7 linked regions of the Homo sapiens genome follow. The protein of the gene in region 3 interacts with the protein of the main gene of each other region in a pairwise test. Each region holds a gene or a part of one and is shown on either strand. Other genes may lie near its edges. The genes, in order: PPM1F, STYX, ROR2, PRR20E, MTMR9, PTPN12 and PTPN20.

Region 1 (3,500 bases), on a different chromosome or scaffold from region 3:
TACACAAGGCAAGAAGATGCTCCAGGGACAAGCCAAGGTGTATGCAAGGCCCAGGTGCCTGAGAAACACGTCTCACCGACCTTGGGGCAGGGGCTGTTACAAGAGGCTTATAGTCTAGTGGCAGAGACAAAAACCACACTCAAATCATTAGTGTACGGTATGCACTGCTCAGGGACTCAAATATGTGACAGGAGGCTCCAAACAAGAGCGGAGACAAGGCGTAAATAGCCCCCTGTGGACTGGATGTTCTGACTCCTGGATGGCCTCCAGAAGGATGCCTTTTACGGTCTGTGAAAGAGCTCAGGGACCAAGATGCTCAAAGCCCTTCATGCCCAAGAGCCCCTCCTCAGGCTGGGACACGGGAAGCAGAGCTCGGAGGTGGAACTCGTGACTGTGTATGGGCACATGTGAGTGCGTGTGTGTGGACAGCCAGGCTTAGTGTAGACAACGTGTGAGGCTCAGACCCCAAGTGCTGACTACACCTATGCACATCCACACCTGCGTGTGAAAGAAGATGCTAGAAAAGAACAAAAATAACTTAAAAAATAAATCCAATAAGATGGCTGGAACATATAACAACTTCAAATACTCCATTTTAGTTCACCATGTAAGGTGGGTTCCTGGGGGCTGAGGAGACTCGGGAGCTCTGCACCCCTCCTGCTCGCACCCATCACTAGGTGGCTCACACAGCAGCCGCTCAACAAGTCTGGCTGCTCTCGCATCAAAACCAAAACCCACTGCCCTCCCCTGCGCCCCCAGCACTGACCCCAACACTTTGGTTCGGGGCCCTCCTGGGCAGGTCACCTGCACTGCCTACTCACTCCTCAGCCCTCCAGGCCCTCCCACCTTGGATCCTTCCCTGGGACCCTGCTCTGCGCCCTTCTCCCCCTGCCCAGGAACTGAAGGCTGATGTTGTCACCCCGGTGCTGCGGCCTGTCCGTCTTCAGCACCTGTGCCCCACGCAGGCCCAGCAAACCCCTGGGCTCTGTTGTTCCCCGGGATGGCTTTTCCATCTGATCCCCAGCTTGGGGCTGGCACCGCTTGGCTTTGCCCGGTCACCTCATGCTTGGGCCAAAGTGCACCAACCCTTCTGTCCCGGGCCTGGCTTTTTGCCTCAAGGCAGCAATGGCCCCATGCCACCTCCACGAAGACCCAGTGGCTGCAGAACTCCCTGGTCTGGACTCCCCTGCTCCCTGCAGAGTGCCACCTGCTCCTCTCAAGAAGGCAGAACGTGAGGCCTTTCCTCACCTCCCGTGCATTGGCACCCCTGCTGGGCCCACTCTGCTCCACCACTGGGGGCTGATTCACTTTGTGCCACATATCTAAAATATTTCCTCAAAACAAGCCAATAACACCCTTTGCGCATGCCATGACCTCATGGAGCGTGGTCACCGGACATTTCCTCCTGAGCTCTAGGCAGCTGTGGGGGATGCTGGGTGGCATAGCCCTTGCATGTGGCTGACACTTAGCAATGTTTGTGCCCATGTTGCACAGGGAGAGCACAAGTCACTGACTCTGCTAGGGCCTGGGGTCAAGGAAAATAGGCCCTTGGTGGGTGTCAGGAACAGAGTTGATTCGCTGCAAGGGGCAAAGGAAGTGCACACTTGGGGGATACTGAGGCAGCCACCGAGGATGGTGGCTCTGTCAGAGGGAGCTATGGCTGAGGGCCTGTCATGGCTTCAGGTGATATTTCAGGTGATTTGGGTGATGCTGGGACTGGGGACCATGCGCACATCCCCTCAGCAAGGGACTAGGTTCACAGAAACAGCACGCGGCCCACCAGCCTGCTCACCTCCATGAGCTGTCCCCTGTGCCAGACAGACAGCCTAACTCCAAGACCCTGTCTGAGCAGAGAGGGTTCGAGAAAAGACCTTGTCCTTCACCATCTTTCATGGGACAAATGCTTCCAGAATGAATGAATAAATGAAGGGGAGGGCAAGGGTCTTCCAAGGAAAGGACCTCTGAGTTCAGCCTAGGCGACAGCTACACACTGTCTGCCGGTGGACACCCAACTCTCTATCTTCCCCGAAATCTGCTCGGCTAGTTGTGCTACCTCTCTGTGCCTCAGCTTCCTCACCTGTGGAAGGGGGACAGTGCCAGCTATCTCTCAGATCGTGGTGGCTGGGGTGCCATGTGGCTCTGCCACTCCTTGACTGTAAGGCCTCAGGCCAGCCTCTTCATCTACCCACCTCTGCCTCCTCGTCCATCACACGGATCGGAAACAGGACGTACTGCTTATCAGCTGCTATGCAATAAATTGTGTTCCCTAAAAGGTATGTTGAAGCCCCAGCCCCCTGTGGCTCAGAATATGATCTTATTTGGAGTTAAAGTCTTTGCAAATGTAATTAGTTATGTTCACATGAGGTCACATTGGCTGGAGTGGCTCATGCCTGTAATCCCAGCATTTAGGGAGGCAAAAACATGAGGATCCATGGAGCCCAGAAATTCGAGACCAGCCTGGGCAGCATAGCGAGACCCCATTCTCCACAAAAAGAAAGATGAGATCACACTGTAGGAGGGCAGCCCCTGGTCCAAAATGCCCATGTCCTTACAAGAGGAGGAGTCACAGACACACAGCAGGCAGGGTGGGGAGGTGTGAAGGCACAGACACACACATGGGGAGATGCCGTGTGCAACAAGGCCAGCTAGGAGGAATGAGTCTACAAGCCAAGGACCTCCAGGAAGTCAAGGCCAGGCACTAACAGAAAGGCAGACTCTTCCCTGCAGCCTTTGAGAGAGCATGGCGCAGCTGCCACCTTGATCTTGGACTCTGGCCTCCAGCCCTGTGAAAGAATGAGCTTTGGCTGTGTTGAGTGCCCAGTGTGTGGTGCTTTGCCATAGCAGCCACGGGAGTTCCACATGGTGCTGCATAGGGATCCGGGGCTGCAGATCCCCGTGTGGGGCTGGACGTGTAGGGGAGCAGCAGCCACATCCCTTGTCGGCCCTGGTGCCGTGCCCTTACTCCCCGTCCCCTTTGGGGGTGCACAGGCCTACCTGCTGCCCAGAAAGCCCATGGCCAGCTCAGCCAGCTCGCCCTCCACCTCCTCCTGGCTGAGCACCGTCCCTGGGGCCTTCCATGGCAGAGGGTCCTCTGGGTTCAGCAGGGCTGGGAAGTCTTGCAGGAGCGTGTCCAGGAAGCCTGGGGTCTCCTCAGCTCCACTGGCCATTGGGCTGCTCTTCTGTGGGGCTCCAGAGGACATGCCCAAAGCATCCCGGGGGCCTGCAGCTAGGCCAGGGCAAGAGGGTCTCCAGGCTTCACCCTGGGGAGAAATGTCAGAGTCAGCAGAATCAGGGGGCCATGGCACCAGCAATGCAGGTGCCCACCTGCAAGCACCATGTGGCAGGTGCATGGCCTCATGGTTCAGGGCCACTAGAGGGTGGAGGGACAACCCTGGCCACTGTTTTGACATGAGTCCAGGTGGGGACTTGTGGGCATCCAGAGATCCGGTCTCAGGAGATGGTGCCAGGAGCAGCAGCTGGGTGGACATTGTCAAGAAGTG
Region 2 (3,500 bases), on a different chromosome or scaffold from region 3:
TAACTCCTTATATACTATAATCACTTGGATATCTTCAAATCTTTACAATTTGTTATTATCAACTGTGTAGAGAATATAGCAGACTCTTATTAAAGAAACTGAAAGCTCACAGAGAATTTGAAAACAGTCTACAGGGATACTCCAGAAAGCCTATCCAAATGAAACAAGTAATTGGGAAAATACAAATTTGGGAGTAAGCTACTACATATAATTGTAACTTCCATATCCTGCATTTAAGACAAATACCAACTAAAAAATTAACAAATAATCAAAATATAAACATTAGTTAAGGAAAGGAAATGTTATTTACCTCCCATTTGTAAGCTCCCATCAATAAATTCCTTAGTCTGGAGGCAAAAGACATGTGGATTAATGTAAGCATAAAATAAATGCATATAATGAAACAAAATGAAACCTATTGAAAACAATTTCCTAATTTATATGTATAAAAATTATTTTGATTCACCAATTTCCAAAATGCTATAAATAGAACTATTACAAGTCCAAAAAAATTAAAGAAGCCAAAATTTAATTTAAGTCCAATACATTCACAATATGATTCCTCAAATTTCTGGAGATCATAAAAAATTTTCTACAAATAATTCTTTTAAAAACACAATCACATAATTTTCAGTCATAGCAAAGTAAAAGTAGCAAGCTTTACAAGCACAATTAAAGGGGCTGGGCACGGTGGCTCACGCCTGTAATGCCAGCACTTTGGGAGGCTGAGGCAGGCAGATCACCTGAGGTCGAGAATTTGAGACCAGCCTGATCAACATGGAGAAACCCCGTCTCTACTAAAAATACAAAATTAGCTGGGCATGGCGGCTCATGCCTGTAATCCCAGCCACTTGGGAGGCTGAGGCAGAAAAATCACTTGAACCCGGGAAGCAGAGGTTGTGGTGAGCCAAGATTGCGCCATTGCACTCCAGCCTGGGCAACAAGAGTAAAACTCTTGTCTCAAAAAAAAAAAAAAAAAAAAAAAAAAAAGCACAACTAAGAAGTCAAATCATAAATAAATTTTAAATGATATTTAAAAAATACTGGTACCTACCATAGGGAAAAAACGTATTATATTTTCAACTGGATTATCTGCAATATCCAGGACTAAATATCTGAAAATAGAGTATTTTGTGATAAGCACACTTTAAGTAAAACACTTAAGGTACTTTAAAAAAATAACTCATTATTTCTTGTTAACCATGGCAAGAATGCAAAACAACTTTCAAAGTATCATATTCCCAAGAACTGTGTGGTAGATTTTACATTGCTTGAAGGCATTAAAACCTGAAACACCATGTTAACATCTCTGATATTTAAGTATTTAAAAAATCCATCAGGCTGGGCACAATGGCTCATGCCTATAATCCCAGCAAAAAGAAACTCTTTTGGGAGGCCAAGGTGGGAGGATCACTTGAGCCCAGGGATTCGAGACCAGCCTGAGCAACAGAGGGAGACTCCATCTCTACAGAATATTAAAAAATTAGCTGGGTGTCGTGGTGTGCACTTATAGTCCCAGCTACTAAGGGGGCTGAGGTAGAACTGTGTGAGCCTGGAAGTCAAGGATATAGTAAGCTGTGATTGGGCCACTGCACTCCAGCCTGGGTAACAGAGCAAGATTCTTATCTCAAAAATAAATACATATTTTATTTGCATATAATGAACCATCTGGTTAAAATAGAAAAATCACAAGCAGGAAGATACATTCCTCTAGATTAGAGTGGACCTAGAAATAAAGACAAAAGTACCTGTAATCGTTATGTTATTCTTTTATTTCTACCAATTTCTCTAAGACCAGAAGATTGTTCTCTAAGTGGTCCTGTGACTCCTGCTCATGAACCTACAGAGGACATTTCAGAGGAAGTCCAAAGTCTAAGAGAACGAACAAATAAAAACGGAAGGTATGGTCTATGGAACCAGGAGTCAAACATTCACTGTTTGAACTCATCTTTAGTAAAGGGGAAAAAAAAAAAAAAAAAAAACTAGCTGAGAGAGCACCTGTACTGAATTTTACACTTTACAAAATACTTAAAAGGCATTTTAAATATGTTAGCTTATTTTTGTAAAAAACTTCCATTTCTAAGCGTTTCTAAGACCACTGTTTATTAACACAACTATAGGCAATTAGCTAAGTTATTAAATTAGTTTTAAGAACAATTTTGCACTAAAAAATACAGTTTTTCAATGATCATTTAGGTGGTAACAACTTCAAAGAATTCAGGACTTTAATACAGAGAAGCTGAGGCTGAGCATGGTGGCTCATGCTTGTAATCCCAGCACTTGGGGAAGCCGAGGCAGGTGGATTGCCTGAGGTCAGGAGTTCAAGACCATCCTGGCCAACATGGTGAAACCCCATCTCTACTAAAAATATAAAAATTAGCCAGGCATGGTGGTGCACACCTGTAATCCCAGCTACTCAGGAGGCTGAGGCAGGAGAATCACTTAAACCCGGGAGGCAGAGGTTGCAGTGGGCCAAAATTGTGCCACTGCACTCCAGCCTGGGTGAAACAGCAAGACTCTGTTTCAAAAACAAAAAAAAAAAAACAAAAAAACAAACAAAAAAAAACACAGAAGCTGAACCTCAGGATCTGAGGAAAATCCAATATTTAACCTACAAGGATTTCGACAATGACTGTATCCTGAAGTGACTGGGTATTCCAGTTACATAAAATAATGCTTCAGGGGAAAAATGTTAACTCAGAATGAAATTAAATATTTTAACGCATAACATTTTCAGTGTCAAGCACTGCTAGTAGAACTATCAATCTCTAAGAAGCTAGTATTGTAAAAGTTTAAGGAGAAATGGTTCTTCCATTAGGATAAAGAACCTGCACAAACAACATTATAATTTAAAACAAAAAGTCTGTACACATTAGAAATGAATAGTATGATTTTTTGGCTTTTTTGTTTTTTCTTAAGATTAGTTTCACCTTATATAGTTTGATATTTTAAAATACAACATTCTCATTTTCTTTAATAATTCTATGCATATATACGTAAATACACATACACAACAGAGAACGATTTAAAAGGAAATATTCCAAATGTTAACAAAAGTGTTTTCTCTGAATTGTGGAACTGTAGATGATTTAAATATTTTTCTTGGTGTCATTCTATACCTTCCGAAGTACTTATAAAGAATAAGTGTTTCATGGCCAGGTGTGGTGGCTCATGCCTGTAACCCCAGCACTTTGGGAGGCTGAGGTGGGTAGATCGCTTAAGCTCAGGAGTTCAAGAACAGCCTGGGCAACACAGCAAAACCCCATCTCTAGAAAAAAAAAAAAAAAATTAGCCCGATCCGGTGGTGCACCTGTAGTCCCAGCTACTTGGAAGGCTGAGGCAGGAAGATTGCTTGAGCCTGGGAGGTCAAGGCTACAATGAACAGAAATCATGCCAATGCAATCCAGGCTGGGCAGCAGAGAAAGATCCTATCTTTGAAAAAAAAAAAAGTATTTCTTTCATAATTATAAAAAATTCAGGCCGGGCGCAGTGGCTCACGC
Region 3 (3,500 bases):
GAGATGGTGTGAAAAAAACAGTTCTTACCATTCATGCTGAAGTATTTTCAGGTAAACAATTAAGGCTGTCTGGGGACTGTTAAGTAGGCCGGGGGAAATGAAACGAAATGAACGTGGCAACTGTTGAAGCTGAGTGAAAAATATACAGCGGTTCACTGCAGTCGTCTAATTTTATGTGTGTTGGAATTTCTATAATAAAAATCTTAAGAAAGAAAAATCAGAAAACTTGGGGCAATCCAGAAACTAGACAAAGACAGAGATTTTCAGTCCCTTCAATGAAATGCTGTCTGGCCTCAAAAGCACCTGGATCGCATCCATCCTCAGTCCCTGTGACACCATTTCCAATAAAATCATAACGTGCAATTCTTTTTTTTTTTTTTTCTTGAGACAGAGTCTTGCTCTGTCACCCAGGCTAGAGTGCAGTGGCTCGATCTCCGCTCACTGTGACCTCTGCCTCCTGGGTCCAAGTGATCCTCCTGTCTCTGTCTCGGCCTCCCGAGTAGTTGGGATTACAGGCACCCAGCCCCCACCCCCGGCTAATTTTTGTATTTTTAGTAGAGATGGGGTTTCACCATTTTGGACAGGCTGGTCTTGAACCCCTGACCTCAGGTGATTCACCTTCCTCAGCCTCCCAAAGTGCTGGGATTACAGGCGTGAGCCACCACCTCGCCGGGCCTTGAGTCTTTCTTTTAACAGCATGTGCTAAACTCCATTGTTCATTGCACTGGCTTCAGCCATCCATTGTTAGAATTTAACATTTTTAATTCTTTTTTTTTTTTTTTTTTTTGAGATGGAGTCTCGCTCTTTCACCCAGGCCAGACTGCCATGGCGCTATCTCGGCTCACTGCAAGCTCCGCCTCCTGGGTTCACACCATTCTCCTGCCTCAGCCTCCCAAGTAGCTGGGACTACAGGCGCCCACCACCGTGCCCAGCTAATTTTTTGTATTTTTAGTAGAGACGGGGTTTCACCGTGTTAGCCAAGATGGTCTCGATCTGCTGACCTCGTGATCCCCCCGCCTCAGCCTCCAGAAGTGCTGGGATTACAGGCGTGAGCCACCGTGCCCGGCCTTAATTCTTTACTTTGAAACCATTTCGCCTTTACAGAGAAGTTACAAGAATGGTGCATGAAACTTCCCTCTACTCTTTGCCCAGGTTCACTAATGTGTCACTCTTGCCCCATGGGCTTTATCATGGTCTGAGATGACAATAGTAGGCTGGAGACATCAAGCCCCTTTATCCTTTAACATGGCAGCGTGTATGTCCTATGAGTACAGACATCCTCTTACACCACCTCTGCACAATTAACAAACTCAGGAAAGACAAGTCTGACAACACGTTTAAATAACTTACGCTCACCTTCCAATTTCCTCAGTGGTTCCGTTAGTATCCACGACAGCATGTTTTTCCCTCCAGCACAGGGTCAGGGCCAGCACATGCACTGGACTGCCTTGTCCCTGTGGTGTATTGTATTGTACTGTCTTCTCTACCTACCCTGTGGTGTACTGTATTGTACTGTCTCCCCACCCCGCCCAGCCCCGCCCTGCCCTCCTTTCTCTTCTCTTCTCTTCTCTTTCATTTTTGAGACAGGGTGTTGCTCTGCTGCCCAGACTGGAGTGTAGTGGCACGATCTCGGCTCACTGCAGCCTCCACCTCCCGGGTTCAAGTGATTCTCCTGCTTCAGCCTCCCTAGTAGCTGGAATTACAGGCACATGTCACCACGCCCGGCTAACTTTTGTATTTTTAGTGAGGACGAGGTTTCACCATGTTGGCCAGGCTGGTCTTGAATTCCTGACCTTGTGATCCGCTGGCCTCAGCCTCCCAAAGTGCTAGGATTACAGGCGTGAGCCACCACACCAGGCCCCTGTGGTCTTCTTCAAGCTGGACCTGGCCTGCCCTGTTTCATCGCTCATGTCCTCGACAATTTTTGCTACAGACCATTGTTTCATAGAATGTCCCTCCATTTCGTTTGCTGATTTTTGCTCATAATCAGACTCTCTTCCCCAGATAGAAAGCAACCTAAATGATGTATGCTCTTGGGAAGGACGGCATCCATCTGCCCAAATCTGTGGCATTAACCTGGACCACCCAGGTATTGGGATGCAAATCTCGCCAGTCTACAGTTAGCAACTGTCCCTTGCCAACAAGGAATCTGTGGGGAAATCCTTTGAGACCACAGACATTTCCTGCTCCTCATCAAACATGTCTTCTTTAATGAGTTTAGCACTCATTCATGACGCCTGCCCAAATCAATCCGTACAGTTATTGCTGTAAAATGTGATTATTCCCAACTCGCCTCCCATTTATCAGTTGGCACTTTGCTCTAGGAAGTGCCCTCTCTTCCCCACCCCTCCCACTTAGGTTTTGTAGTAAATTAGTGTTTCCCTATCCACCCAGAAGCTCAGAAAGTGACCTTATTTGGAAATAGTCTTTCCAGTAGTAATAAGGAACATGAGATTAAATCATCCTGTATTTACAGTGGTCCCTAAATCCAATCACTGGTGTCCTTACAATAAAAGGTCATGTGAAAATGGCGATAGAAGTCAAAGTGATATAGCTCCAAACCAAGGGCACCATGAGCCACCAGGAACTAAAAGAGGCAAAAAAGTTTTCTCCCCTAGAGCCCTGGGAGGGATCGTGGCCCTGCCGCCACCTTGATTTTGGACTTCTAGCCTCTAAAACTGTGGGAGAATACATTTCTGGTTTTTAGGTCACCCCGTTTATGGCATTTTGCTACAGCAGGCCTAAGAAACTCATACATATAGTTATGTACTTATTATCAATGGTGAGTCCTGGATGCCTATTTTGTTCCTTGTATAATCCATGCTTGTCTTTATTTATTCTGATGCCTAAATGGTCCCAGACTTGGCTGCAACTCCTTCAAGTTGGCCCCTGAGTACATCTGCCATGCCCCCACCACTTTTCACCACTCACTTGCGTTCTAACACAAGAACACGTTTCAGGCTTATTGTGTATTTTTCCCTGTCCCCATCCCATATTCAGTCATTTCTCCAAGGTTCTCTAGCTCCTTTAAGATGCAACAGTATTGAGAAACCAACATCTGGGCACTAAGAAAGCTCACTGCTAATGAGGTGCTAAGAAATAACTGTTATGTGTAGAGTATGTTTTACAAATTACGGTGCATAATTTAACATAATATATACCAAATATATATATAAATGAAAGCATGAGTTACACTGATACCTCCAATTCCAATTCAACCCCTCCAGATTCTTCCTTGCCTTCCCCTATTCCATCCTTATATCTCCCTCCTTCCTCAGTGAGCACCCTGGCTACAACACTATTAACACACTTCTTATCTGTCTAATCTCACAATTCACACAAAGTCATTTCAGAATGGATATACCCACACCACTATGAAAATCAAACCTACTAAGAAGGGTGCCAGTTTTGCTTTCAGGTTGTTGTTTCTCCTGTAGGCTGAGGATACACCGTCAAAGCACTGAGTCCAACATTACGGTTTCTTTTCCCCCATCTGTGTA
Region 4 (4,142 bases), on a different chromosome or scaffold from region 3:
CTCAGGCCTTCCAAACAAGCCTGGGCACATAGCGAAACCTCGTCTCTCCAAAAAAATCCGAAAATTATCCCGATGTGGTGGCGCTCACCTGTAGTCCAGCTACTCCGGAGGCCGAGACAGGAGAATCACTTGAACTGATTCTCCTATCTCAGCCCCCCCCCCCCCCCCCCCCCAAGTAGCCGCAGCGAGCCGAGATGGCACCGCTGCACTCCAGCCTGGGCTACAGAGCGAGAACCCGTCTCTGTAAAAGACACAAGGATGCAAACCAACCAAATAACCCACTGTGGGATCCCCTCCAGCGTCCTGCTGTGTTTCCCGCTGTCTTCCTCCACCCGTGAGTGCACCCACAGCAATAAAAGCCAGCGGTGTGGGTCTCACACGCATCTCCAGCCCCGTCGCCATCGCGCTGAGCTCGACTCTTTTTACAAAAGGCCACTTGACATCCTCACTTGGCAGTTCAAAAGCCCCTTCAACCAGATGTGCGCAAGCCAAGCTCCGCAACTTCCCGTTCAGAGCAGGTTCTCGGTCCACCTCTGCCTGAATGAACCGGCGGGCTACCAAGGCCGCAGTCTCTTCCTCAAGGGCTGTCCACACTGGGTCTCGCTTTCTCTTGGAAATTTCTCTCCCACCAGGGAACTTTCTCCTCCTCTACCTCCCTGAGTCTCAGTCTAACAGCACCCTGCGCCCAACCCCGAGGGCTGCAATAGCCTTCTTGCCTCTCCTGACTTATTCTGCGGACCCTGGGTTGGCGCTCCTTCACAGCCAGGCTGGTCGTTTCTGAAATGTTAACCCGCTGCCGGACACCGTTCCACGGTTTTCCGCTGCCTTGGAACAAGACCAGCTCCTGCGCGGACCCTGCCTCCACCTCGCACCACCTCCGGGCCTGGACTTGGCCTCCCGTCCATTCCCAGAATGTGCCGGGCTCCCTTCCAGTCCGGGCCTCAGCACACTCTCTTCACTCCCCTTCCTCCCTCCCTGCCTCTCCCAACCCGGTTCAGGATGACTAATTTCAAACGTTATGTTCCAGATTTCAGCCCAGATATCCCCGCTTTGGATGCTTTCCTTGACCATGCTCAGATCTAAGCTAATCGCATCTTCCTGTCAGCCGCTTTCAGGGCACCACACCTCATTGTGCTGACACTCAGAGGTCATTATGCAATTTTTTTTCCTCGATGATTAGATTAATCAATCAACCACGGACGTCTAGAAATGGCGGCATCTCAGAAGGGCCCCCATTTGACTGGCAGGGGACTGGCCCAATGCGCCTCGCAAGCCCAGCCAGGCCCGCCCCAGCCGGCCCCCCTCTGACGACGCCTGTCCCTTACGCGACTGCCTTGCTGCCATATAAGAGGGACGGCGCTCGGCCTCCAGCAGTCGGCTTTCTGCTGGGCTCGGAGCCAGAACCTGCTGCGTGCTCCCTCCAGACTCCCTGGCTGCGGGTGGACTACCTCAGAGCTACAGCGGTGAACCTGTGGACACCTCCGACTCCTCGGGCCTCTCTTCGTCGAAGAGTCTCCTAATTTTCAGATCTCCGGAGCCAGCTGTGGGAAGATCAGGTGTGTGTCTGGGGGTCCCGGAGGCGTGGACGGATCTCGGGTGGGTGCAGTTGGGGACAGAATCCTCATTCCCCTAGAAAGGCCACGGCCATCCCCCTGCCTTGTCACCTCTGTCTTCCTAAATCCGTTCTTGCTCTCTTGTTTTTCTCCCCAGCCCCTCCCGCCGATTGCTCATGGAGGAACCAAGGCCTTCGAAGCGACTTCGCTCCATGGCCCCTAATCAAGGTACATCAAACGCCTGCCACTCCTCTCTTTTTAATTTCGTCTGTTCCCCAATTCTTCCCCAATGGTTGACACTCAAACTCAATCAAGCATTCTCTGTTTCACCTTCTCCTAGCCTGCCTCAACCTGGGCTGCTTGTTGGAAGTCAGCTCCCGGGTTCCACATCATCTGGGAAATTCCTTTCCCTCTTCCGAACCGTAATCCCATTTCCCAAATCTGAGATTTGCTGTTGTTGTCGCTGTTTCCTTCTGTTTAGTTTTGTATTACTGTTTCTCCGTAGCAGAGCGAGTCCTCACGCTACGTCTTGATCTATGATAAACCGGTACTTCCACCTTGTTCTTTCCCGGAGGAGTTGGAATTTTCCGGCTGTTGCCACGTTGTTCTCCAAAACTTTTCCCTTCATACGCTGAGTGTCCTAAATCTTTTAATCTTGTCTAGTTTGACAGATGCATAACAATAAAGCATCCACTGAAAGGAAATTCTTTAACATCTTGCTTGTCTGAAACATCTTCATTCTCCCCTCCCAGATTCTTCAGCGAAACTTCGGTTGGACAGGAAATTTTAGGTGGGAAATTCATTTCCCTTGAAATTTCGAAGACATTTTCTGTTATGTTCTAGACTGAACTGCTGCTTTTGAGATGTCTGACTTTTGAGACATGTGGAATCCTAGCCCTTTCCATGTGACTTTTCCTTTCTCTGTCTCCCGCTCTCTAGAATCTGTTAGAATCTTCTCTTTTTCCTCAGCACTCTGAAATTTTCTGGTGAAATGTCTCAGCCACAGCATACCTCTAATTCTCTTATATTTCATCCTTCTTTCCATCATTTTAGGTTTTTGCTTTGTTCTGTGGGAGACCTTCTCAACTTCTTTCTCCAACTTCCGTGGAGAGTTTTGTTTCTTCTCTCACAATTTTAACTTCAGAAATCCCTCTTTTCTCTGAGTATTTATTTGTAAAAGTATCCTATAACTGCTTGACGGGTGAAGTTCCTTCTGTCTCTCTCTGCTCACGCTCCGCTTCTCTTTTAGCCTCAGGTGGGCCTCCTCCAGAGCCAGGCTGCTGTGTTGCGGACCCTGAAGGCTCCGTGGAAGCAGATGGGCCCGCACAGCCAGCCCAACCCGCAAAACCCATCGCTTACGTGAAACCCTTCAGACGGCAGCCCCCAGCTCGCCCAGAGTCACCCCCTCCTGCAGAGAGAGGCCGGCGCCGGGGAGGAAGCCGGCGGCCAGGGCGAGGCCGTGGCAGAAGGGCTGGGCCCCGCGGGGACGCTGGCCAGAGACAGGGGGCAGAAGGCTTGATGGCACCGGACGTGCACATCCAACTGGACCACCATGGAGAGCCAGGCCACCAGGGGGAACCGGAAATCACGGAGACCGCAGCCTTCTCCCTTTCTGAAACAGGTCCTCCGCCTGGAACTGTGCAGGAAGGCCCTGGCCCCGACGTGGCGCAACCTGAGCTGGGGTTTCAGGAGCCGCCCGCTGCTCCTGGGCCTCAGGCTGTTGACTGGCAACCCGTCTTGACCCTCTATCCCTGCATCGGGTTTAGGGCTCTGGGTGACTCAGCGGTTTTACAAGTCATTCAAACCCCCCAGGGCACCTACGTGCAAGGGGTCCCAGTGTTCCTCACCGACATTGCGTATTGACCACTATCTGCCACCCACGTTGTTCCCAGCCTCCCTTCCTTCCACCTGGACGTTCCCCCCAGCCCCACTTCTGCTCCACTCCTCCCCCGACTGGACCTGAAGCCTGAGCTTCCCCTGAACTTGGAGTACGCAACTTACAACATGCAAGCTGCCAAACACCCTTTCTGTACAAGGCGATTGGAATGGAACTGTCATGTACAGTGAAAGTACACGTCACGTTTTTCAGCCAAGAAGAAGCCAACCCAGACAACCTGGAAGAAGTGGGATGCAACAAGGATCACTAAGCATGGAAATTAGGAAACTGTATTCTTAAGTCCAGAGAAGTACGATTCTGGAAAAAGGATTGATGACCTAGAATTAAAATTCCAGAAGACACTCATATAGACATGTGGGACATGCGAAAACTCAGAAGGAGCTAGAAGTTACTAAAGTGCTTCTCTAGTGCCTGGAGACGATAGACTGGCTGAATATAAGAGCAATAAAAATCTAGACTGACACATTTTTAAGTCTCAACGTGGGTACCCTTTGGGAACCACTAAATGAATTGGAATAGAAGGTAAAATTTCAAACAGATTGAGGAAAAAGGGGATCAAAGGACATGTGACGAATCAGACAAAAGGTGTTGGGGTGGGGGGGGGGGCGGTTAACGGAAGCAAGGAGAGTGCATGACTCACTGGAACCGCTAAACCAGGAATCAGTAATTTGACGGCAGTGTCCTTGGCTTCC
Region 5 (3,500 bases), on a different chromosome or scaffold from region 3:
TTCCTCATGATGCATAGTAGACAAACAAATGAGTATGACTGACTGATTTTTATGTTATTTTAATGGATATCACAATTCTGTGAACCACTGTAAAATTTCTATGTCATTACCTTTGTCACATACAGTAGTAGAAGGACCCAGAGACAAAGCAGATCTGTGAAATTCCTAGCAGAGTATGATTTGTATTAAGGTCAGCATTTGGGTTCTGAACAAGACAGTCAAATGAGTCTTAAATTTACTTTGGTCAGTAGATGGCAGACTCTTGCTGTTCATTTTGGGAGAAGAGGGTAATTAATGACAGCTTTATCTCCTGTAGAAAAGTACTCATAAAGATCTTTCAACACAATAACTTTTCGTATATAATTAGAGATTTACTATCAGAGCTGACATTATAAAGGTGATCAGAGTTCCATATCTGTCTCCACTTAGGGTGAGGCTTGTTTAGTGTACAGCACAATCTACAGTGTTAGACAGAGGTGATGATTCTTCTTTGTACTGAGAGCTTATGTTCTTTGACTTTGCTCCAGGTTTTGTAGACCTAGAAAGGTTTATTTTGTAAGTTTATTATTGCTTAAGTTCATTATTCTTCCATGGGATATTCCAAGGGCAGTGCAGTTCCTGTGGTCACACCTTAGCCGCGCAGCCTCATTAAGGATTTGGAAGTGTGTCTTTTTCCTTAGTTGCTGCCGCTATTTATTTTATACCAAGAAATCATTAATCTGTACAACAGCTACCCTAATTATATGATGTTCCAGGTACTAGGAGTGTCACTGTAATTGTGTATAGTGGTGTCGGTAGAATGCTCTGTCATGTGATCTCACCAGGATATGACTGTCACGCCTCCATCTTCCCCCTAGGCTGGTCACCCATTCCAGCAGCGCTGTGCACAGTCAGCCTACTGTAACACCAAGCAGAAGTGGGAGGCTCCTGTATTTCTTCTCTTCTTGGACTGCGTGTGGCAGATCCTTCGTCAGTTTCCCTGTTCTTTTGAGTTTAATGAGAATTTCCTCATCATGCTCTTTGAGCATGCTTATGCCTCACAGTTTGGAACATTTCTGGGCAACAATGAAAGTGAAAGGTGAGTACACTGCTCACATGGGGACCTTTCCTTTTCCGTTGTTTTGGCTACTTCCTAAGTAGCCAGAATCTCCTAGGAGACGACGATTTGGATCTATATTAAAATTATTTATAAAAAGGTAGAGGCTACAGTTAATTATAATTTAAATGACCTGAAGTATATTCTTTTATGAGAGCATGTCCTAGACTTTGTTCTGTTAGGTTAAAATTAGTCCATACGTGAATTAAGGGGCAACCATTTTAAATGTTAATTTCTTAACATAGGATCATAGTATCTTACATGTGGAAAAAGCCTTAATTTATAATTCAGGTCTTCCCTCTAATTTTATTAAGAAAGTAAGATCCAGAGAAGTTACGTGACTTTTCCCAGGACATAGAGTCAGTTGGTCATCAAAAGTGTGGCCTAGAGCAGCGATCCCCAACCATTTTGGCACCAGGGACCAGTTTTGTGGATAACAACTTTTCTTTGGATTGGGTGGCAGCGGGATTGGTGATGGTTTTGGGGTGAAACTGTTCCATGTCAGATCATCAGGCATTAGATTCTCATAAGGAGAATTCTCATAAAGGCGCACCCTAGATTCCCCACATGCGCAGCTCACAGTAGGGTTTGCGCTTCTCTGAGAATCTGATGCTGATCTGACAGGAGGTGGAAATACGCGCTCATCTGCCACTCACCTCCTGCTGTGTGGCCAGTTCCTAACAGGCCACGGACCCTTACTGGTCCATGGCCTGGGGTTTGGGGATCCCTGGCCTAAATTACAGGTCTTCCTCCTCCTGCTCCAGACTTTGTTACACCTAGAAACTGTCCTCAGGCCCAGAGTGGCAAGCTCACCTTACAGCCCAGGCACCATCAAGTGTATAGGTTCATTTACAAGATTCACATCAGAATGATCTTTCAGGGAGGTTGCCTGGTAATCTCTTCAGGGTACAATCAGCAGCCTTCCTTGCCTCATTGCTGGCAGCCACCATTTTCTGAAGCATGTGTTGCTTAGCCCTGGACTGTACTCTGGCAGGGAGGGACAGGAGGGATTGGCAATTTCTATAGCCAAGGAAGTTTGGTGAATATGACATAATATCCTCCCCACTTAGAGGGGAGGATTAACTCCCCCACTTAGAAGGGAGGATTTAATGATTAACGCATAATCATTAAAGGCTTTAAGACACTCTTCAGTAAAGCAATGTATATAAGTTTAATTCAGCATTTAAGAAATGTGTTTGATGATGAATTTTTTTTGGTGTTATACCTGTTAATATCCTCAGGACTAGCTTTCAAGAAGGGATCAAAATAGATTCCCATTCTGTTTCCCAGTTGGTAGAGGCTGCCAGCAATGCTGATGGGAAGGATTCTGAAGTGGTGTCAGGCTCAGCCAGAGCAAGTTCAGTGGTTGGCCGGCCATGGGCAGGGGGCACAGGGCTGGAGGCAGTGGATGCAATAATGTCCTGTCCTTGTCATCCCTGGTTCCTGGGAACATAGCGTGGGACATGCTATCCCAGCAGTTAAAGTCCAATGCCACATAGGCTCTATGATTATGTGGATTATTTTTATTGCTAGCTCAAAAAGAATGCAGTAAGTTGCACGTAGCTCATAAATAATCATGTGGTTTCAGAGACAAAACTGATTTTATAATAAAATCTCAGCTTAAACTGAGTCTTATGAGAATTGAATGTATTATCTTTTTGGTTGATGTAAGGTTTACCACAGACTGTCTTTCAATCTGTGTTAAAATGTATTTTTTTCTAAAACATGCCGATCGACTGTTATCCTTCTCTAACAGTTTATTCACATGATAAAGAGTGTTCCAGAGTTTTAGAATTATTATGAAGCCTGTTCATTGTATGTGGATATAGATTAAATATGTATTTATGTCAAGATTCACATTGATTTTTCATCTTTGACAATCTGTATTTTATGTACATGTAAGTTATTTTCCCTAAAAGCTAAGTCTCTAAAAAATTTTAAGTTTTGTTTGAGATTTGACTCAACCTCCACTTTTAATATTAGTATGGGCGTAAGAAGGATACAGTGGACTTTGGGGACTTGGGGGAGGGACAGAAGGGGGACGAGGGATAAAAGACTACAATTAGGGTTCATTGTATACTGCTCGGATGATGGGTGCACCAGAATCTCACAAATCGCCACTACAGAACTTACTCATGTAACCAAATACCACCTGTTCCCCAATAACTTATGGAAAAATTAAAATAAAAAATTAAAAAAAAAAACAATTAGAAAGTGGTTATCAAACAATGTAAATAATGAAGACCCTGGGGGTCTTTCCAGACATTCATATTTGTAAGCTATCCTGGTTGTTTCTGCACAACAAGCCCTTTCTTAAAGAAACTAGAAAAATAAATAGGACATAAATGTCAAAAAGTGTATAATTTTTATGTTTATATTATAGGCTTCTCAGAAACAAAAAGGT
Region 6 (3,500 bases), on a different chromosome or scaffold from region 3:
TGCTGTAGGTTCTATGGTAGAGTGTGGAATAAAACATAATAAATCAATACAGCTAAAGTGCTTAAAACAGTGACTAGCACATAGGAAAGACATTTAAGTATTTGACACTATATTATTACCTTTTTCAGCACCTGAATGTGTTGTTCCTGCTATATTATGTCTAGCAATGGACATTGGCAATACTTTCCTAGTAGAAATGCTTTCAGTACTAGTGGCAGCAGAAACTGTGGCACTTGCTGTTGAAATATTAGTTTTATTCTGGGTCACAGCACCATCAGAGTTTCTTTCATCTGAGTCTGAGTCATCAGAGTGAAGTGGATTAGTAAAACTGAGGGGTGTTCTGAAGAGTGGTGAAGTGTTATCATGATCCACAAGATCAGGTGTTTCAACTTGTGTTGTAGGACTTGGTGTTAAACTCACAGTTTTCCTAGTTTGATAGTTGATATCTGAGGAATTGCCTTCAGATAAATCAGGTATGGGTATGGCATTTTCAGGTCCATGAAATGACCACGTTACATGTCCTTTCTCATCAAGAGGCAAGCGGTCTGGCCTTGGAGGTGTGTCTGAATTCTGGGATTCTTCTGGTGGAGTAACTGAAACTTTGTTTGATTGTGTTACACTGCAGTCCACACAAGAATTCTGGGAAGTATCACCGACATTTAGATCTGAACTTAATTCCTGTGGCTTAGAGATTTTATCAGCTATACAAGGTGAAGCAGATTTAATTTTAATTGCATGTCCCCTATTCAAAAGTGTGTTCCCATCAAAACTTTTTGGTCCCTCTTGGAGAGGGACCTTCTTAATCTCAAAACTTAAATTTCGTTCCAATTTTTTATCTATCTGTTCAATTGTTGATTCATTTTTCCCTGGAAGTTCTGTTGATTTACTATAGTTTCTGTTGAGGTCTGCTGAATGTTGTTCTGATGAAACCATATGCAACACTGGCTTTGGATGGTATCTATCATTGTCCTGCCACACAGTAGTGACTGTTGGAAAAGCTGAAGGGGGAGAAGGTGTCAAGATGGGTGGCACTGGATGAGGTTCCGGTGGCTGCAGTATTTCTTCTTTAGCATCCCCTTCAACAAGGCAACTGAAAAACAAACATTTAAAAAGGGCATTTTAAGACTGTTAAACAAGTTGATACCTGAGAATTATGTAGCTAAGAGTAGCATATTAAGAGCCATTACAATCTGGTTGCGAATAAAAACTGCAGTTTTTCAGACTAAGAAAATTTAATGTTCATCAAGGTAATACACATATACTGTTTAAAAAGTCAAATACAAGACTTTGAATGAAAAACATAGTCTCTGCCCCGCAGCCCTCCTGTTAGCCAGAGGCATCAACTTTCAACATTTTTTTATAGCTGCTTCTAAAATTTACACCTCTGTATTTCAGACTATTTCAAAAGTTATTTCTTGATCTTTGTTTCACACATTTTCTACTGACTTCCTACTGTGGAAGTGTCCTTCTCTATCTTTCCAATACTGTTATATTGTAATTTTTCATTACCTCAGTCGTATGACTGCAGATAGTATTCCCATCTATGACACCATGATTTCGTATCTTTTCTTCTATAGTGTCTTGTTTTCCCCTAATGACTGCCTTGGATTTCTGATGGCTTAGCTCTCTATGCATCATCAGTTACTCAGCTTTTCTTCTAACTTTCTTGCAGATTGGTATACCTCCTCTCAATAATGACAAGCACACATAGTAAGTATCAATACCACAGACATCCTTGTTAGTAACTTTTGGCCTCCTGCTCCAGTGTGGACTACTGGTTCCCTAGTCCATCACAGAGCTAATGTTCTCTCTGGTTTCAGATTCTCCTGTTTCCCAGGTCTCATTTTCCTCTTTCTGGGTATACTCCTTTGTTCGGGTGGGTTATACCCTCTAGTTGCCTTTATTTTTTTCCTTAAAGAAATAGGGGCCAGGCATGGTGGCTCACGCCTGTAATCCCAGCACTTTGGGAGGCCAAGGTGGGTGGATCAATTGAGCTCAGGAGTTTGAGACCAGCCTGAGCAACACAGTAAAACCCCATCTCTACTAATAATACAAAAATTTGCCAGGTGTGGTGGCACACACCTGCAGTCCCAGATACTTGGGAGGCTGAGGCAGGAGAATTGCTTGAGCCCAGGAGGTGGAGATGGCAGTGAGTTGAGATCACGCCACTGCACTCCAGTCTGGGCGACAGAGCAAGACTGTCTCCAAAAAAAAAAAAAAAAAAAAAAAGAGAGAGAGAGCGAGAGAGAGAGCGCGAGTGAGAGTGAGAGTGAGAGAGAGAGAGAGAGAGAGAGAGAGAGAGAGAGAGAGAGAGAGAGAGAGCGAGCAGCCTGGGCAATATGGCAAAACCCTGTGTCTTTAACAAATACAAAAAAATTAACTGGATGTGGCAATGCATGCTTGTAGTCCCAGCTACTAGGAAGGCTGAGGTAGGAGGATCACCTGAGCCTGGGGAGGTCAAGGCTGCAGGGAGCTCTGATCATGCCACTGCACTCCAGCCTGGGTGAAAGAATGAGATCCTGTCTCAAAAAAAAAAAAAAACCAAAGAAGAAGATAGGGTTTACTATGTTGCCCAGGCTTTGTTGCTTTTTAAGAACTTTATATGAAGCAAACTTCTTGAGGGCTTGTATATTTAAGTTTTTGTGTTCTGTTTTTCTTTTGAGATAGAGTCTTGTTCTGTCACCCAGGCTGGAGTGCAGTGGCACCATCTTGGCTCATTGGAACCTCTACCTCCTGGGTTCCAGCAATTCTTGTGCTTCAACCTCCTGAGTAGCTGGGACTACAGGCACATGCCACCACACCTGGCTAATTTTTGTATTTTTAGTAGAGATGGGGTTTTGCCATGTTGGCCAGGCTGGTCTCCAACTCCTGGCCTCAAGTGATTTGCCTGCCTCGGCCCCCGCAAAGTGCTGGGATTACAGGGGTGAGCCACTGGACCCCACCTCAGAGTTTTTGCTTTTTTTTCTCCCCCCAGGTGATCAACCTTTTTTTATCCAACCAGATAACTGGCAGTAATCACATGGTACACCAGGTTTCCCCTTAAAAGAGACTCTGTGGGCCAGGCATGGTGGCTCACGCCTGTAATCCTAGCACTTTGGGAGGCCAAGGCAGGCGGATCACAAGATCAGGAGTTTGAGACCAGCCTAACCAACATGGCAAAACCCCGTCTCTACTAAAAACACAAAACCCTAGTCAGGCATGGTAGCGTGCGCCTGTAATCCCAGCTACTCAGGAAGCTGAGTCAGGAGAATCACTTGAATTCGGGAGGCAGAGGTTGCAGTGAGCTGAGATCACGCCACTGCACTCCAGCCTAGGTGACAGAGCAAGACTCTGTCTCAAAATAAATAAAATAAATAAATAAAGACTCTGTGAAGTTCAGATTCTCTAGACACATTCCCACATTCCTAGGACATGAGAAGATAAATGAATATCTCCAGAATACTGATCATATTAAAATGACAGCAATACTCTCATAAGATATTCCTATATCTGTTCAAGTT
Region 7 (3,500 bases), on a different chromosome or scaffold from region 3:
GAATTATCAAATGCTACCATTACTGGCCCATTTCTCTGAAGAAGCCATTGGAATTGAAACACTTCCGTGTATTCCTGGAGAACTACCAGATACTTCAATATTTCATCATTCGAATGTTTCAAGTTGTGGAGAAGTCCGTAAGTTTTTAAACATCAGTATTAGATATATGTTTCACCACATAAGCAGATGTCTTAGAACTAGAAGTTAGGAGTAGGATGGAAAATCGATCGATGATACTTCTTAAGTAACTTTTTACTTGTCCCTGGTACCAGAAGCCACCACCACTTCTACTTCTCCTCAACCAGATTCTGTGGAGAAGAAAAAATTGGAAAAGAGAGGTGGGGCAGGGAGAGTGACTGTTGAAGTTGTCTGATTCTGGGTTATACCTGCCTCTGCCAAATGTAGCAGATACGTATTGAGTCCTTAAAGTATGCTAATCACTGGGCCAGGCACTATCAGTACTTACCGAATAGTGGAGAGGTTGGTTACACTCACTGATAGATACCTAACTTACCGTGTTCAGTGATAATGTTGAGATATGTCTTGGGCACTTTGGGGCTCAGAAGGTAAACACTTGGCTTTACTTGGGGTTTTGAGACAGGTTTACTGGAGGAGGTGGCATTTGTTTTGAGAATTATGCAAATGAAAAAGATGGAGGGAGAAAGTAGATGATCAAAATATAAAATAGCATAAGGTGTGTGTAGAGACAAATATAAGTAGTTAAGTGTTTCTGAAATGTAAAAGTTCAGTGCCAGGGAGTAATAAAAGATGAGATGAGGTTCTCAAAAGTAAGCAGGGGCCAGCTAGAATGTGAAATGTCTTAAATTTCAGCTAAGTAGCATGAACTTTATTATGAAGATAATTGGGAGACATTGAAGAATTTTAGTAAGTGACATGATCAACTACGGCTGTTGGCATGGGGGTGGAAAGCACAGACGCAAGTGTTTTGCAGATAAAATTGGGAGACATATGTGACTTATGACTTATGATTTATAAGTGACAGAGGAGGGGTTGAAAATATATTCAATACAGTAACCACATGTGGATATTTAAGTTTAAATTTAAGTTATTTAAATTTATGTAAAATAACAAATTGAGTTCCTCACCTGCAAGTAGCCACATTTTAGGGCTTATGAGTGGCATGTTGATAGTGGCTACTATATTGCCACTATTTAAGACATTTGCTTCAGTATAGGAAGTTCTGTTGAGAAGCATTGGTCTAGAATAATTCATGGATTCCTTGGTCTAATAGACTTAGAAAACAGAAAAGGAATGGTTTATAGGAGAAAGCAATGAGTTAGATTGCTCTAGTGGATTCAGTTGGCAGGTAGGTGATACATGTGTTAACACGAGTGAAGGGAATAGGAGTTGAACAGGAAACTTGCAGAGAATGGTGAGTTTTGGAGTCATCACCAAAGAAGTTGATTGGAGCACAATCACCAGGAAAAGGGTTGCTGAGTGATGCTGAGGTTTGACCCATACATTTGTAGTAGCAACAAAATATGTGATTATGTGTATTTTTCTAGCAGTATAACATTGAGATCCCTGAATACAGGTTATGGGACTGATCCAGAGAGAGAGATTAATTTTAAGGAGTTGGTTCAAGTGATTGTGGAGGGTTGGCAAATCTGCAGGGTGGGAAAGTAGGCTGAAGACCCAGGGAAGAATTGGAGTTTGAGTCCAAAAGCAATCTGCTGGTAGAATTCCTTCTTGCTCATGGGAGGTCAGTTTTTGTTCTCTTAAGGCCTTCAGCTGATTAGATGAAGCCAACCCACTTTATGGAGAATAACCTGCTTTACTCAAATTCTACCAATTTAAATGTTAATCTCACCTAAAAAATACCTTCACAGAGGCACAAAATAATATTTGGCCTAGTATCTGGATACCAGGGCTCAGCCAAGTTGACACATAAAATTAACTATCACAAATTTCAGTCGACACTGTGGATTAGAATAGAGCTCTGAGCACTAGCATCTTTATTCAGAAAGCTTAGGAAAAAGAGGTGCATTCGGGAGAAGCATAGGAGAAGTGAGAAACTCATTTTGAGTTCTTCCATTAGGGTCCCATGTGTGATAAAATAAGGGCCCCACACTGAGGAAAGGGTCATGATCCCTTTGGATGAGATATAGGTAAATTCAAAGTGCTTTATCTGACAATGCTGGGAAGAGTTTCATGACTCCACTTCAAGGGGGCTCAGCACAATAGTGGGACCCACAATCTACTCTCATGGTCATTGACTACCCTGTCTTCATCGCTGGAAGAGATCGGTGCCTCTCTTGTCAGACACCTATATGTCTTAATTAAATTTCATATGTCATTTCTAAACTAAGATACTTTGCCTTTTGGTCTTATTCCTAACATGACAGTCCATCTCTCACTCTAAGCATTTTGAAATCTTGGTTTTCCTGTAGCCTCATGGTACAGAAGAATGATGGTAGATTAGAATTCAAGACACCTACATTACAGTTCCAGCTCTAAACGTGTGAACCTTCTGACCTAGCATACATCTCTCGTCCCCCTCATCCTTAAATTTTCATCTGTAAAATGGAGATAAAATGGTGCCTATCTCACATGGTTGATGTGAAGATTAAAGGAGAGAATTCATGTGAAGCCCCTAGCATAGTAACTGCCACATAGCAAGTGCTTAATTTTTGTTACCTGTTAATACTGGTATTTTTATTGTTGTTACTGTGCTCTCCTTTGTAAAATGGAGAAAACCTCTATTCCTAGCAACTTCCAGAATTCTTATAAACATCAAAAAGAGGTTTGAGTACTTTTTGAAAGTTCTATATAATACCAAGGTAATACCATATAGCCATTATTATTATCATTTGAATATTAGAAGTTGGCGTGAGGTCTCTAATATAAGAAATCAATAAATGTCTTTCTCGCTCTGTTTCTTTCTCTAACAGACGGGAACTAGTCACTCTGTAAAACAGTTGCAGTTCACCAAGTGGCCAGACCATGGCACTCCTGCCTCAGCAGATAGCTTCATAAAATATATTCGTTATGCAAGGAAGAGCCACCTTACAGGACCCATGGTTGTTCACTGCAGTGCCGGCATAGGCCGGACAGGGGTGTTCCTATGTGTGGATGTCGTGTTCTGTGCCATCGTAAAGAACTGTTCAGTAAGTGTGTGAATCAAGCAGATACACTGATGCTGTTGGTGTTTACACACTACATTTAATAGCCTGATCATTTGGAAGACTAATATTTGGTCTTCAAAAGCAACTTAGTAAATCAAAAGCACATGAGCTTTGGATACCTGATTCTCACCGAACTTGCTGCAGGTTCCTGGGGGTGTTTGTGAGGATTAAAGTATGTATTGTAAATAATGGCTTAGGACAGTGTCTGGAACATAATAGATACACAGAAAATGTGAGTTCCATTTCCTTTTCCTTCCCTGTATCTTACACGGGGTGTTTAGACTCTTACTAGAGAATGTTGATGGAATGTGCCTGTTTTTAATGAATATAAGTGACAAGCACATAAGAATGTGA

What was found.
Region 1: the proteins of ROR2 (region 3) and PPM1F interact in a two-hybrid assay, tested with the Homo sapiens proteins (one study listed by BioGRID and IntAct).
Region 2: the proteins of ROR2 (region 3) and STYX interact in a two-hybrid assay, tested with the Homo sapiens proteins (one study listed by BioGRID and IntAct).
Region 4: the proteins of ROR2 (region 3) and PRR20E interact in a two-hybrid assay, tested with the Homo sapiens proteins (one large-scale study listed by BioGRID).
Region 5: the proteins of ROR2 (region 3) and MTMR9 interact in a two-hybrid assay, tested with the Homo sapiens proteins (one study listed by BioGRID and IntAct).
Region 6: the proteins of ROR2 (region 3) and PTPN12 interact in a two-hybrid assay, tested with the Homo sapiens proteins (one study listed by BioGRID and IntAct).
Region 7: the proteins of ROR2 (region 3) and PTPN20 interact in a two-hybrid assay, tested with the Homo sapiens proteins (one study listed by BioGRID).

Annotation. Positions count from the first base shown.
Region 1 is NC_000022.11:21,942,849-21,946,348, forward strand, and holds part of PPM1F (protein phosphatase 1F), read right to left. Parts: intron 3,261-3,500; 5' UTR 3,201-3,260; coding exon 2,995-3,200; intron 587-2,994; exon of another isoform or gene 1-586. UniProt on the Homo sapiens protein: Dephosphorylates and concomitantly deactivates CaM-kinase II activated upon autophosphorylation, and CaM-kinases IV and I activated upon phosphorylation by CaM-kinase kinase. Promotes apoptosis.
Region 2 is NC_000014.9:52,754,166-52,757,665, reverse strand, and holds part of STYX (serine/threonine/tyrosine-interacting protein), read right to left. Parts: intron 1,116-3,500; coding exon 1,055-1,115; intron 348-1,054; coding exon 311-347; intron 1-310. UniProt on the Homo sapiens protein: Catalytically inactive phosphatase. Acts as a nuclear anchor for MAPK1/MAPK3 (ERK1/ERK2). Modulates cell-fate decisions and cell migration by spatiotemporal regulation of MAPK1/MAPK3 (ERK1/ERK2).
Region 3 is NC_000009.12:91,940,229-91,943,728, forward strand, and holds part of ROR2 (tyrosine-protein kinase transmembrane receptor ROR2 isoform 1 precursor), read right to left. Parts: intron 1-3,500. UniProt on the Homo sapiens protein: Tyrosine-protein kinase receptor which may be involved in the early formation of the chondrocytes. It seems to be required for cartilage and growth plate development. Phosphorylates YWHAB, leading to induction of osteogenesis and bone formation.
Region 4 is NC_000013.11:57,165,855-57,169,996, forward strand, and holds the start of PRR20E (proline-rich protein 20E), read left to right. Parts: upstream 1-1,342; 5' UTR 1,343-1,556; intron 1,557-1,710; 5' UTR 1,711-1,729; coding exon 1,730-1,781; intron 1,782-2,802; coding exon 2,803-3,416; 3' UTR 3,417-4,142.
Region 5 is NC_000008.11:11,315,816-11,319,315, forward strand, and holds part of MTMR9 (myotubularin-related protein 9), read left to right. Parts: intron 1-43; exon of another isoform or gene 44-857; coding exon 858-1,078; exon of another isoform or gene 1,079-3,500. UniProt on the Homo sapiens protein: Acts as an adapter for myotubularin-related phosphatases. Increases lipid phosphatase MTMR6 catalytic activity, specifically towards phosphatidylinositol 3,5-bisphosphate and MTMR6 binding affinity for phosphorylated phosphatidylinositols.
Region 6 is NC_000007.14:77,624,295-77,627,794, reverse strand, and holds part of PTPN12 (tyrosine-protein phosphatase non-receptor type 12), read right to left. Parts: intron 1,091-3,500; coding exon 120-1,090; intron 1-119. UniProt on the Homo sapiens protein: Dephosphorylates a range of proteins, and thereby regulates cellular signaling cascades. Dephosphorylates cellular tyrosine kinases, such as ERBB2 and PTK2B/PYK2, and thereby regulates signaling via ERBB2 and PTK2B/PYK2.
Region 7 is NC_000010.11:46,984,428-46,987,927, forward strand, and holds part of PTPN20 (tyrosine-protein phosphatase non-receptor type 20), read left to right. Parts: coding exon 1-137; intron 138-2,912; coding exon 2,913-3,128; intron 3,129-3,500. UniProt on the Homo sapiens protein: Tyrosine-protein phosphatase targeted to sites of actin polymerization in response of varied extracellular stimuli. Has tyrosine phosphatase activity towards various tyrosyl phosphorylated substrates.